3 linked regions of the Homo sapiens genome follow. The protein of the gene in region 1 purifies or fractionates together with the protein of each later gene. This does not show direct contact. Each region holds a gene or a part of one and is shown in the gene's direction. Other genes may lie near its edges.

Evidence for each region.
Region 2: the proteins of CDKN2AIPNL (region 1) and WAC purify together in Homo sapiens (affinity purification with mass spectrometry; one large-scale study listed by BioGRID and IntAct). This does not show direct contact.
Region 3: the proteins of CDKN2AIPNL (region 1) and PLEKHA8 purify together in Homo sapiens (affinity purification with mass spectrometry; one large-scale study listed by BioGRID and IntAct). This does not show direct contact.

What each region holds. Positions count from the first base shown.
Region 1 is NC_000005.10:134,405,221-134,408,932, reverse strand, and holds part of CDKN2AIPNL (CDKN2AIP N-terminal-like protein), read left to right. Parts: intron 1-3,712.
Region 2 is NC_000010.11:28,616,579-28,620,117, forward strand, and holds part of WAC (WW domain-containing adapter protein with coiled-coil), read left to right. Parts: intron 1-1,078; coding exon 1,079-1,206; intron 1,207-2,958; coding exon 2,959-3,028; 3' UTR 3,029-3,539.
Region 3 is NC_000007.14:30,031,341-30,035,052, forward strand, and holds part of PLEKHA8 (pleckstrin homology domain-containing family A member 8), read left to right. Parts: intron 1-3,712. UniProt on the Homo sapiens protein: Cargo transport protein that is required for apical transport from the Golgi complex. Transports AQP2 from the trans-Golgi network (TGN) to sites of AQP2 phosphorylation.

The sequences.
Region 1 (3,712 bases):
ATTCTCAGTTGCTCATAAAGTATTTCAGTCCCAAATAGTACACCCCACTTGATTTTCAGGATGGTTTGTTTTTCTTAAAAAAGTATTCTTTTAGTTTTAATCTGAACCTGGGGAAAAGCTTCAGGTTGGTTTTCGAGATGCTATTATGTTTTAAAATCAGCTGTTACCTCAACACAGTACTCCTGACAAAAAATCAGTAAGTAAAATCAGCTGTTTTTTTGTTTTTGTTTGTTTGTTTGTTTGTTTTTGAGAGGGAGTCTCCCTGTGTCGCCCAGGCTGGAGTGAGGTGGTGCGATCTGGGCTCACTGCAAGCTCTGCCTCCCAGGTTCACACCATTCTCCTGCCTCAGCCTCCTGAGTAGCTGGGACTACAGGCGCCTGCCACCACGCCCAGCCAATTTTTTTTTTTTTTTTTTTTTTGTATTTTTAGTAGAGACGGGGTTTCACCGTGTTAGCCAGGATGGTCTCGATCTCCTGACCTCGTGATCCGCCCGCCTCGGCCTCCCAAAGTGCTGGGATTACAGGTGTGAGCCACCGCACCAGGACTAAAATCAGCTGTTAAAAAGGGGCTACTGTTTTTAGCCAGGGAGCAGTGTGAATTGGGAGTGTGTGGCTTTTTGGATCTTCTCATGTAATACTTAAAAAAATACTGGGCAGTCCTTGGGTGTTCTATAGTAAGGTTCTTGGGGCCCAGCCAGGGAGGAGCTAGATAGTTTCTGGCTACTGGAGTATACCTTATGGGGCAGGGGCAGGGGCAGAGGTAGGCAGGGAATGAGGTGAGCCTTTATTTTTAATTTATTTTTTAGATAGAGGCTCACTTTGTCACCCAGGCTGGAGTGCAGTGGCACGATCTCAGCTCACTGCAACCTCTGCCTCCCAGGCTCAAGTGATTCTAGCGCCACAGCCTCCCCAGTAGCTGGGATTACAGCCGGGTGCCACCATACCCAGCTAATTTTTGTATTTTTAGTAGAGAAAGGGTTTTGCCATGTTGTCCAGGCTGGTCTTGAACTCCTGGCCTCAAGTGATCTGCCCAGCTTCCCAAAGTGCTAGGATTACAGGCGTGAGCCACTGCACCTGGCCGAGCCTTTATTTTTTAACTGCTTGTGATAGATTCTTTCCTTTTTGTTTCTAAGAGGTTTTCTGATTTTCCTTTTTTTTTTTTTTTGAGATGGAGTTTTGCTCTTGTTGCCCAGGCTGGAGTGCAATGGTTCAGCTCACTGCAACCTCTGCCTCGCGAGTTTAAGCGATCCCTTGCCTCAGCGTCCCAAGAAGCTGGGATTACAGGCGCCTGCCACCACGCGCGGCTATTTTTTGTATTTTTTAGTAGAGATGAGGTTTCACCATGTTGGCCAAGTTGTTCTCGAACTCCTGACCTCAGGTGATCCACCCACCTCAGCTTCCCAAAGTGCTGGGATTACATGCGTTAGCCACTGTGCCCAGCAAGGTTTTCTGATTTTTTATATCAGTTCTCCATTATACTTCTCTGTCTTATATGTTTTCTGAAAGGTATCTGAACTCTTTCCAGTCATGTTGGGTATTAGAGATCAGAACACCTAATGACATTGGGCTGCAGACCCCAGTAGGAGACTAAGGAGGTTTGGCACGTCCCAAACATTATCTATAGACCAGTGTGAAGTGTGTGTGTGTGTGTGTGTGTGTGTGTGTGTGTGTGTGTGTTAGGAAGGGTCTTTCTGAAACATCCTAAAGGGGTCTTATACCTAAAAAATGTACAGAGCCCCTGCCCTGGGATGTTCATTCTTGACACTGTCATTGCACAGTGTGAGTCTACAGAGAAGAGTCCTCAGGCATGAAATTATCTTCTTGAAACCAGTGCCGCCATCTTACTAATCATTAGCAGTTAGCTATGTGGAAGAAGCCTATATAGAGGCCATACTTCTATAGCATTTTTGAATTGTGTGTTGCAACTTCCTTCAAATAAAACTTATGTTTTTCTAAGTAGCCAGGTTTAACTTTAGTCTGTTGATGCCACTCTAAGTGAAATTCAGCTGATCCTGAAAAGTGAGATACTTAGAGGGTGCATAGAGTTTTGCCAGTTTTGTTTTCAGACAGGGGTCTCTCTCTGTGGCTCAGGCTGGAGTGCAGTGGCTTGCTCACGGCTACCCGCAGCCTTGACCTGCCAGGCTCAAGTGATCCTTGCACCTTAGCCTCCCCAGTAGCTGGGACTACAGGTGTGTACCACCATGCTTGGCTAATTTTTGTAGAGACTGGGTTTTGCTATGTTCCCCAGGCTGGTCTCAAATGATCCACCTGCCTCAGCCTCCCAAAGTGCTGGTGTGAGTCACTGTGCCTGGTGAATCTTTAAGACTCTTCCAGATAAGCCCATTCTGAGAACGAGTCATCTGATCTATGTACCATGACAAATTTGTGTGGTATTGAAGGCTGTCCCCTCTCCATTGAATGCCACTGGAAAGAGAGCCATGAGGACTTTGCAGCAGTTTCATCCTTTGCCTGCAGTTTTTGCACACATGACAGAGGATGCTGAAAAACATTAGGCAACATTGCCAGCCCATAGACAAAATACTCCTGATGTCCAGCCATACACCTGAAAACGTCTGTTGTTGTTCTGCCCAGAATTGATGCTTTAGCTAAAAAATTAGAGTTTAGTTGGGTTTTAAAGCTAGCTACCAAGTGGAAGTAAATTGCCTGGCATTGTTGGTATCTCAAGACAGACAGTGATGATGATTTGGAGACATAAGCTCTTTAAGATTTTAAAAATACTTTATGGCTATTCTGCAGCTTTGAGGCAAGTAGATCTCTGCAATCTGTCCAGCTCTTTTTTTAAGTCTGAGAAAAGAAATGAGCATTGGTTTCTGACAGGTGGAATTTGTTGGACAGTTGCAGTATATGATTTTTTTTCTTTTGAAAGGGGATTCAAACACACATACATTGAGTAAACAATCTTGATTATCTAACTGCCATCCTAGGCTACTGCTGGCAGCCTTTGTGGTTGCTCACCTTACCAATTAATGAGCGATAATTAACAAAGAGCAGCAGCTGACTCAGGAAAGATGTCATTGCTATGACTGTCAGAATTAATATTTCCAAGGTAATGTTTTAAGGAGAAAGGAGTGATTGACTAGGAAGCTATCATTATTGACTCAAAGAAAGAAGCTGTCAACCTAATTTACGTGGTCCATTTTTTTCTGAGAACATTTTTATCCCAAGAGGGAAAATGGCAGTATGAAAAGTGACTATGAAGGCTGGGCGTGGTGGCTCATGCCTGTAATCCTAACACTTTGGGAGGCCGAGGCAGGCAGGTCACGAGGTCAGGAGTTTGAGACCAGTCTGACCAACATGGTGAAACCCCGTCTCTGCTAAAAATACAAAAATTAGCTGGGCATGGTGGCACGTGCCTGTAATCCCAGCTACTCAAGAGGCTGAGGCAGGAGAATCACTTGAACCCGGGAGGTGGAGGTTGCAGTGAGCCGAGATCGTGTCATTGCACTCCAGCCTGGGCGACAGAGTGAGACTCTGTCTCAAAAAATAATAATTAAAAAAAAGAAAAATGGGCTGGGCGCGGTGGCTCACGCCTGTAATCCCAGCACTTTGGGAGGCCGAGGCGGGCGGATCACAAGGTCAGGAGATCGAGACCATCTTGGCTAACACGGTGAAACCCCGTCTCTACTAAAAATACAAAAAATTAGCCGGGCGCGGTGGCGGGCGCCTGTAGTCCCAGCTACTCGGGAGGCTGA
Region 2 (3,539 bases), on another chromosome or scaffold:
CAGCAGTTAGCTCAGTGCTTAATGCCTTATATTTATTTTCTCTACTTCTTAAAACAGCTAAGCAGTGTAGATAGAGTTGAAGTCCTTAAGACCAAATAGTGCATAAGACCTTGATCCCAGGGTCACCCAGTTAACAGTGATGTGGCTCAAAGCCAGTGTACTTTTTCCACTCAGCTTCTCTGATAGTTTCAGATTCCATTAGCACTGTTAATCTACTGGCCAAGCGCAGTGGCTCATACCTGTAATCCCAACACTTTGGGAGGCCAAGGCAGGTGGATCACTTGAGGCCAGCCAGGAGTTCGAGACCAGTCTGACCAACATGGTGAAACCCCATCTCTAACCACAAGTATAAAAATTAGCCAGGCATGGTGGCATGCACCTGTAATTACAGCTACTCGGGAGCCTGAGGCACCAGAATTACGTGAACCCAGGAGGCAGAAGTTGCAGTGAGCCGAGATTGCACCACTGTACTCCAGCCTGGGTGACACAGTGAGACTCTGTCTCAAAAAAACAAAAAAAAACCCCACTTAATTTTCTATGACTCTCTCACTAGACTAGCAACTGGAAGTTAGGAAACATTTTTGCTTTGGGATGAGAGACCTTAGGACATTCCAGTTACTGCCATTTGCCTCTTGCTTTTTATCAGATAACTGACCATCTGGGGTGTTCGAAAGTTTACAGAGAATATGTTGTGTGTCTTACGATAGAGGAGTATAGTGAGGCTCTTGAATCAATATCTAATACCTGAACTTGCAGAAATGACAATCTCTTTGGCTGACCCAGCATCTTTTATTAACCACAAATTATGAGTCCTTTCTTAGTGCTGTATTAGCTTCAGGTTGGAAATCCTATTTTCTCCAACTTAGAAGAGAAATATTAAAATAAGTACCTTCCACCCTTAGAGACAGTTTCTTAAAACAAATTAATTTTCCCCATTAGGTTCACCAGCATTTTTGTGTATTGAAGGGAAAAGGATTATTCTCTAATCCTAGTATAAAATTGTACTCAGAAATTTAATGTTTTATTTTGTGTATGTTAATGTTTATATTTTATGTTTTCTTCATTTCTTTAATTACAGGCATCAAGATTACGCGAAGAAGCGCATAACATGGGAACTATTCACATGTCCGAAATTTGTACTGAATTAAAAAATTTAAGATCTTTAGTCCGAGTATGTGAAATTCAAGCAACTTTGCGAGAGCAAAGGTAAGTCTTTCACTGAAATATATTTTTATGTTTCTCAGGATTATGATTCTTAAATCGAACTAAAGAATGTAAATCACATTTTATTTATGAAATGTAAAGTTCTCTTCGATACATTGATCACATTCTATCACTGCATTTTCATAAGTTAATATTTCTCGTGAAGGATAAAGCCTGTCGATTTTCTCTTAACCCATGATGAATGCTTCATTAGACTTTTCTCATAACTCCATAAGCTGCAATAATATATTACTGAAAAAATGAAATATTGACCACAACTAATTATAAATGTCCTCTCTTGCTGAGGGTGTTTCCATTGAAATTTCAGATTATTTGTCCTTGCATCATCAATAGATCCCTTGAAAAGTATAGAAAGAATTTGTCTAGCAAGTTTAGTGTATCTGCTGTCTTAGTATTTTTCACCTGAACTCTTGTCTTGTATTTCTTAATCTAGTGTTTCACTCAAGTAGAATATCTAGGTCACAATAATAATAGCATAGGTATTATTTTTTAATGCCTATTACAGAATTGAGGACAAACTTGGCAATGGCTTTATGTCCTGTCTGTGCAAGTCACAGAGTTACAGGTCGATTGAATCTTGTCAAGAAACCATAAATATTTAGTAAATACCAAATGGAGTTTATAGTACAACTTGAAAAAGTAAGTTTATTTACAGTTACTAAAATATCTGGAGGTACTCTCTGAGTAACAACTTGGGTTCTTATAGTCAGATTGCTCTGAAAGTAGTTCTAACAAACTTCATTTTGGCTTGTTACATCATTCGACTTTTGGGAAATTATTCATTATTGCATCTTAGGAAAACAGTATATACAGTCAAATATCAAGCCAGCCTGATTATGCCTAATTCATGTGTACAGGCAATAAATATTATAGTTCCCAGAAGAGAAGAGTAAAAACAGGAAATATTTTTACGTTCATGGGAATCTGGGTAACTGGGGTTTGTGTGTTTCAACTTTTGGTTTTTGGCTTCATTTTTATGTACCTACATCTACATTGAGAATTGCTCTTCTAAATGATTAATCTCTTACACCTGGTTAATTCTACTCTTTACTGTATAGTGGGCCAGAAAACATGCAGTATAGGTTTATTTCATGTATAATAGCTACTGCTTTCTTTATTGTGATGATACGGTTTATAAAGTAATACATTTTAAGTTGTTAGAGCCAAAGGAATTATTAAGAAATTGTTAGAAAAGGCTGGGCGCGGTGGCTAACGCCTGTAATCCCAGCACTTTGGGAGGCCAAGGTGGGCGGATCACCTGAGGTCAGGAGTTCAAGACCAGCCTGGCCAACATGGCAAAACCCTGTCTCTACTAAAAATATAAAAATTAGCCGGGCGTAAGGACAGGTGCCTGTAATCCCAGCTACTCAGGAGGCTGAGGCAGGGAGAATTGCTTGAACCCGGGAGGCGGAGATTGCAGTGAGTCAAGATTGCACCCCTGCCCTCTAGCCTGGGCAACAGAGCAAGACTCTGTCTCAAAAAATAAAATAAAATAAAAAGTTGTTTGAAAACTAAAACATCCTTTCATCATCCTTATACTTTAATAGATATTATGTATTAAATGTTTACTTTGTCTTAACTGTAAACCAATTTATAGTTAAATAATTTTTTAAATTTCTTTGCCTTAATTAGAAATCACTTGTTTTAATTTAAAAAATTTTAATTATAAAAGCTCGGGTTTTCTGTAATATTTGTATATGTACACAGGTTCTAATGTCTGCTTTTTTTTTTCAGGATACTATTTTTGAGACAACAAATTAAGGAACTTGAAAAGCTAAAAAATCAGAATTCCTTCATGGTGTGAAGATGTGAATAATTGCACATGGTTTTGAGAACAGGAACTGTAAATCTGTTGCCCAATCTTAACATTTTTGAGCTGCATTTAAGTAGACTTTGGACCGTTAAGCTGGGCAAAGGAAATGACAAGGGGACGGGGTCTGTGAGAGTCAATTCAGGGGAAAGATACAAGATTGATTTGTAAAACCCTTGAAATGTAGATTTCTTGTAGATGTATCCTTCACGTTGTAAATATGTTTTGTAGAGTGAAGCCATGGGAAGCCATGTGTAACAGAGCTTAGACATCCAAAACTAATCAATGCTGAGGTGGCTAAATACCTAGCCTTTTACATGTAAACCTGTCTGCAAAATTAGCTTTTTTAAAAAAAAAAAAAAAAAAATTGGGGGGGTTAATTTATCATTCAGAAATCTTGCATTTTCAAAAATTCAGTGCAAGCGCCAGGCGATTTGTGTCTAAGGATACGATTTTGAACCATATGGGCAGTGTACAAAATATGAAACAACTGTTTCCACACTTG
Region 3 (3,712 bases), on another chromosome or scaffold:
TTAAGCAGAGTCTGAAGGATAAATCAAGCTGTTAATAGTTCGCTGGAGAGGCCAAGGCAGAGGTGTAGTTAGAGGAAATAAAGAAGAACTTTTCAGGCACAGGGAATGCCAGTGTCAAGGCCCCAAAGCAGAATGGAGACGTGCGAGTTTGAGGAAAGGAAAGAGGACCCATCTGGCTGAGAGCTGAGGAGAGTGAGGCTCCAACAAAGATGCAGGGGTGTGCGGGAGGCTAGATATTTCAGGGCCTCATAGGCTGGTTTAAACACTGTGATGTGATTGTGTGTGTGCATGTGGGTACATGCATGCATGCGTCTGTGAGAGAGAAATGATGAGATTGTTTAAAAGCTTACTCTGGCTTTAGCGTAGCGTAGAACATTTTCTGGTTACATCTTTATATCTCTCCTGCTGCATTTATTGTACTTCACTAAATACTATGTATTATTATTTTGTGAGCTTCTTTTGCCTCTTGAATTTTAAATCGATAGGTATTAATTACTGAAAGTTAGAATTCATCAAGCCCTGATAATAGCGTCTGAGGTTTATGTGAGTGTATTTCTAGAAGAGAAAAGAAGTCTCTTCCCTTAAATGCTAAGCGTATTCAGGTACTCTATCCTCCTTCAATGAAAAATACAAAAAAAAAAAAGTTTACATGTATTTTCGTTTACAGTCTGGTTTCATCCTGCCTTTTGGACATTCCGGGATTTAGTGCCAGTACCTTTCTTTAGATGTTAGAAGATTAAACTTGGGATGAAGAGAGTAAATTAAAAACATGTTACAGATTCCCACATTGTGTGAGACATACTTCTAAAGAAGCACTGTGTTTGTTATTTGTGTCTTTCAAGACCTAAAATTTAGTCAAGGAGTATTATACATGTAGGGCTACACATTAATACTCTAGAACGCTGGTTCAGGAGTCAGAGAGACCTGAAGCCTGGCAAACAGCCCTATTACTGCCAACTGCAGGGTCACTTTAGCATCCTGAGCCTTAGTATCTTCCTCCATTTAAAATAATGGGATTTACTAGTTTATAATTGTAAGAACTGTTAAAAATTTATTAGTACTTACAATGTGCCAAGCACTTTTCTAAACATTTTACATGGATTAACTCAGTCTTTGCAGCAATTTCAAAAAACAGTTGCCTTTATTATGCCCATTTTCCAGATGAAGACACTGAGATATAGAGACGTGGGTTTGCTGAAGGTCACACAGCCACTTATTAAGTGGCTTCAGAGTCAGTGCTCCATTAGACAATACTTTTAAAGGTCCTTCTTGCTTGATCATTATGTAATTCTAGCTGATTCATAATGTACCTATATTTAAAGTATGTTTGACCTAGAATAGCAGACTATTTCGGGGGTGGGAAGTGGGGAGGAATTCAGAAGTGAAGAAAGCTTTGACTGCCCAATGTTGTGCATATGTTTTGCCACGAGGAAATTTTCTAACCTGTGCTTTCTACTTTGTAGTTTTAGGTCCTTTTCCTGCCCACTCAGCTGATAGGAGGGCTGCTGTTGTGAACTCCAGCCAGCCGAAGGCTGCTTGTGCCTCTCCAGCAGGTTAAAGCTCAAGCACATTGCATTACTGCATTCTGAAAATAACAAAAGCCTGCATCATACTGGCCAGATGGTTTTCATTAAGGATGTGCTATAATTTTGTTTCCCCTCAGGTGGAGGAAGGTGACTCTTGCCCTATATACTATATATACTAGTGCTGTGTAAACAGTACCAGGAAGACATCTGGAGTATGAGGATTCTTGGTTTCACAACCACTGGTCAACCCTTTTTGTTGTTGTTAACATTTTAACATCTTTATGGAGATAATTCATAAACCATAAAATTCATCCATTTAAAATGTACAAGTCAGTGATTTTAGTATATATAAAAAGTGTAACTATTACCATGATCAATTTTAGAACATTTTCATTATCCCAGAAAGAAACCCAGTACCCATTAGCAGTCACTCCTACACCTACACCTGCCCTTCACTGTTGGCAACCACTAATCTGTCTGCACAGATTTGCCTCTTCTAGGCAGTTTATATAAATGGAATTATATAATATGTGGTCTTTTGTGGCTGGCTGCTTTCCCGTAGCATAATGTTTTTTTTGGATAGCATGTATCAGAACTTCATTCCTTTTTATTACCAAATAATATTTCATTGTATATGTATACCATATTTAGTTTATCCATTTTCAGTTGAAGAACATTTGGATTGGGCTGTTCTTTTTGTTTTTGTTTTTCTTGGTTATTATGAAATAACACTGCTGTGAACACTCATGTACAAGTTTTTGTATAGACATGATTTCATTTCTCTTGGATATCTATAATACCTAGGAGTGGAATTGCTGGAGTCCTATGATAACTCTTTATTTAATAATTTGAGAGACTACCAAATAGTTTTCCAAAGTGACTGCACCATTTTACATTCTCGTCAGTAATCAAAGAAGTTTCCGTCTTCACATTCTCATCAACCTCATTATCGTCTTAGTATAGCTATCCTAGTAGTGGATGTGAAATGATATCTCATGGTTTTGATTTATATTTCTCTGACTTAATGATGTTGATTATCTTTTTATATGCTGATTATCCATTTGTATATCTATTTGGAAAAATGTCTGCATTTTTTGCCCATTTGTTTGGGTTATTTTTTCATTACAGAGTTGTAAGAGGTTTCTTTTTTTTTTTTTTTTTTTTTTTTTTTTTTTTGAGACAGAGTCTTACTCTGTCACCCAGGCTGGAGTGCAGTGGTGTGATCTCCGCCTCCCGAGTTCAAGCAATTCTCCTGCCTCAGCCTCCTGAGTACCTAGGACTACAGGTGTGTGCCACCATGCCTGGCTAATTTTTTGTGTTTTTAGTAGAGATGGGGTTTCACTATGTTGGCCAGGCTGGTCCGAACTCCTGACCTCAGGTGATCCGCCTGCCTCGGCCTCCCAAAGTGCTAGGATTACAGGTGTGAGCCACTGTGCCCGGCCAAGAGTTCTTTATTCTGGATATAAGTTCCTTGTTAGATAGATGATTTGCAAATACAGTTGACCCATGAATAATGCAGGAGTTGGGGCACCAATCCCCACAGTCAAAAGTCTGCATGTAACTTTCGATTCCCCCAAAATCTTAACCAGTAGCCTGCGAATAACCAAAAGCCTTATGAATAACTTTAACAATTAACACATATGTTATGTCATATGTGTCGTATACTGCATTCCTACAATAAAGTAAGCTAAAGAAAGGGTTATGAAGAAAATGATAAGGAAGAGAAAATACATTTACTGTTCATTAAGTGGAAGTGGGTCATTGTAAAGGTCTTCATCCTTGCTGTCTTCACATTGAGGAGGCAGAGGAAGAGGAAGAGGAGGGGTTGGTTTTGCTATCTCAGGGTAGCAGAAGTGGAAGAAAATCCGCATGTGCACGGTTGAAATTCAAACCCATGGTATGCAAGGATCAACTGTATTTTCTTTTCTGTAGGTTGTCTTTTTCATTTTCTTCCTGGTATCATTTGCAACACAAAAGTTTTAAATTTTGATGTAGTCTGATTTATCAATTTTTTCTTTTCTTGTTTGTTTTTGGTGTTACATTATCTTAGGAAACCATTGCCAAACCTAAGGTCATGAAGATTTACCCTTAAGGCTTTAAAAATAGTTTTTAGTGCTTACATTTAATTCTCATCCATTTTGAATTAATTTTTGTGTACGATATGAGGTAAGAGTACAGCTTTTTTT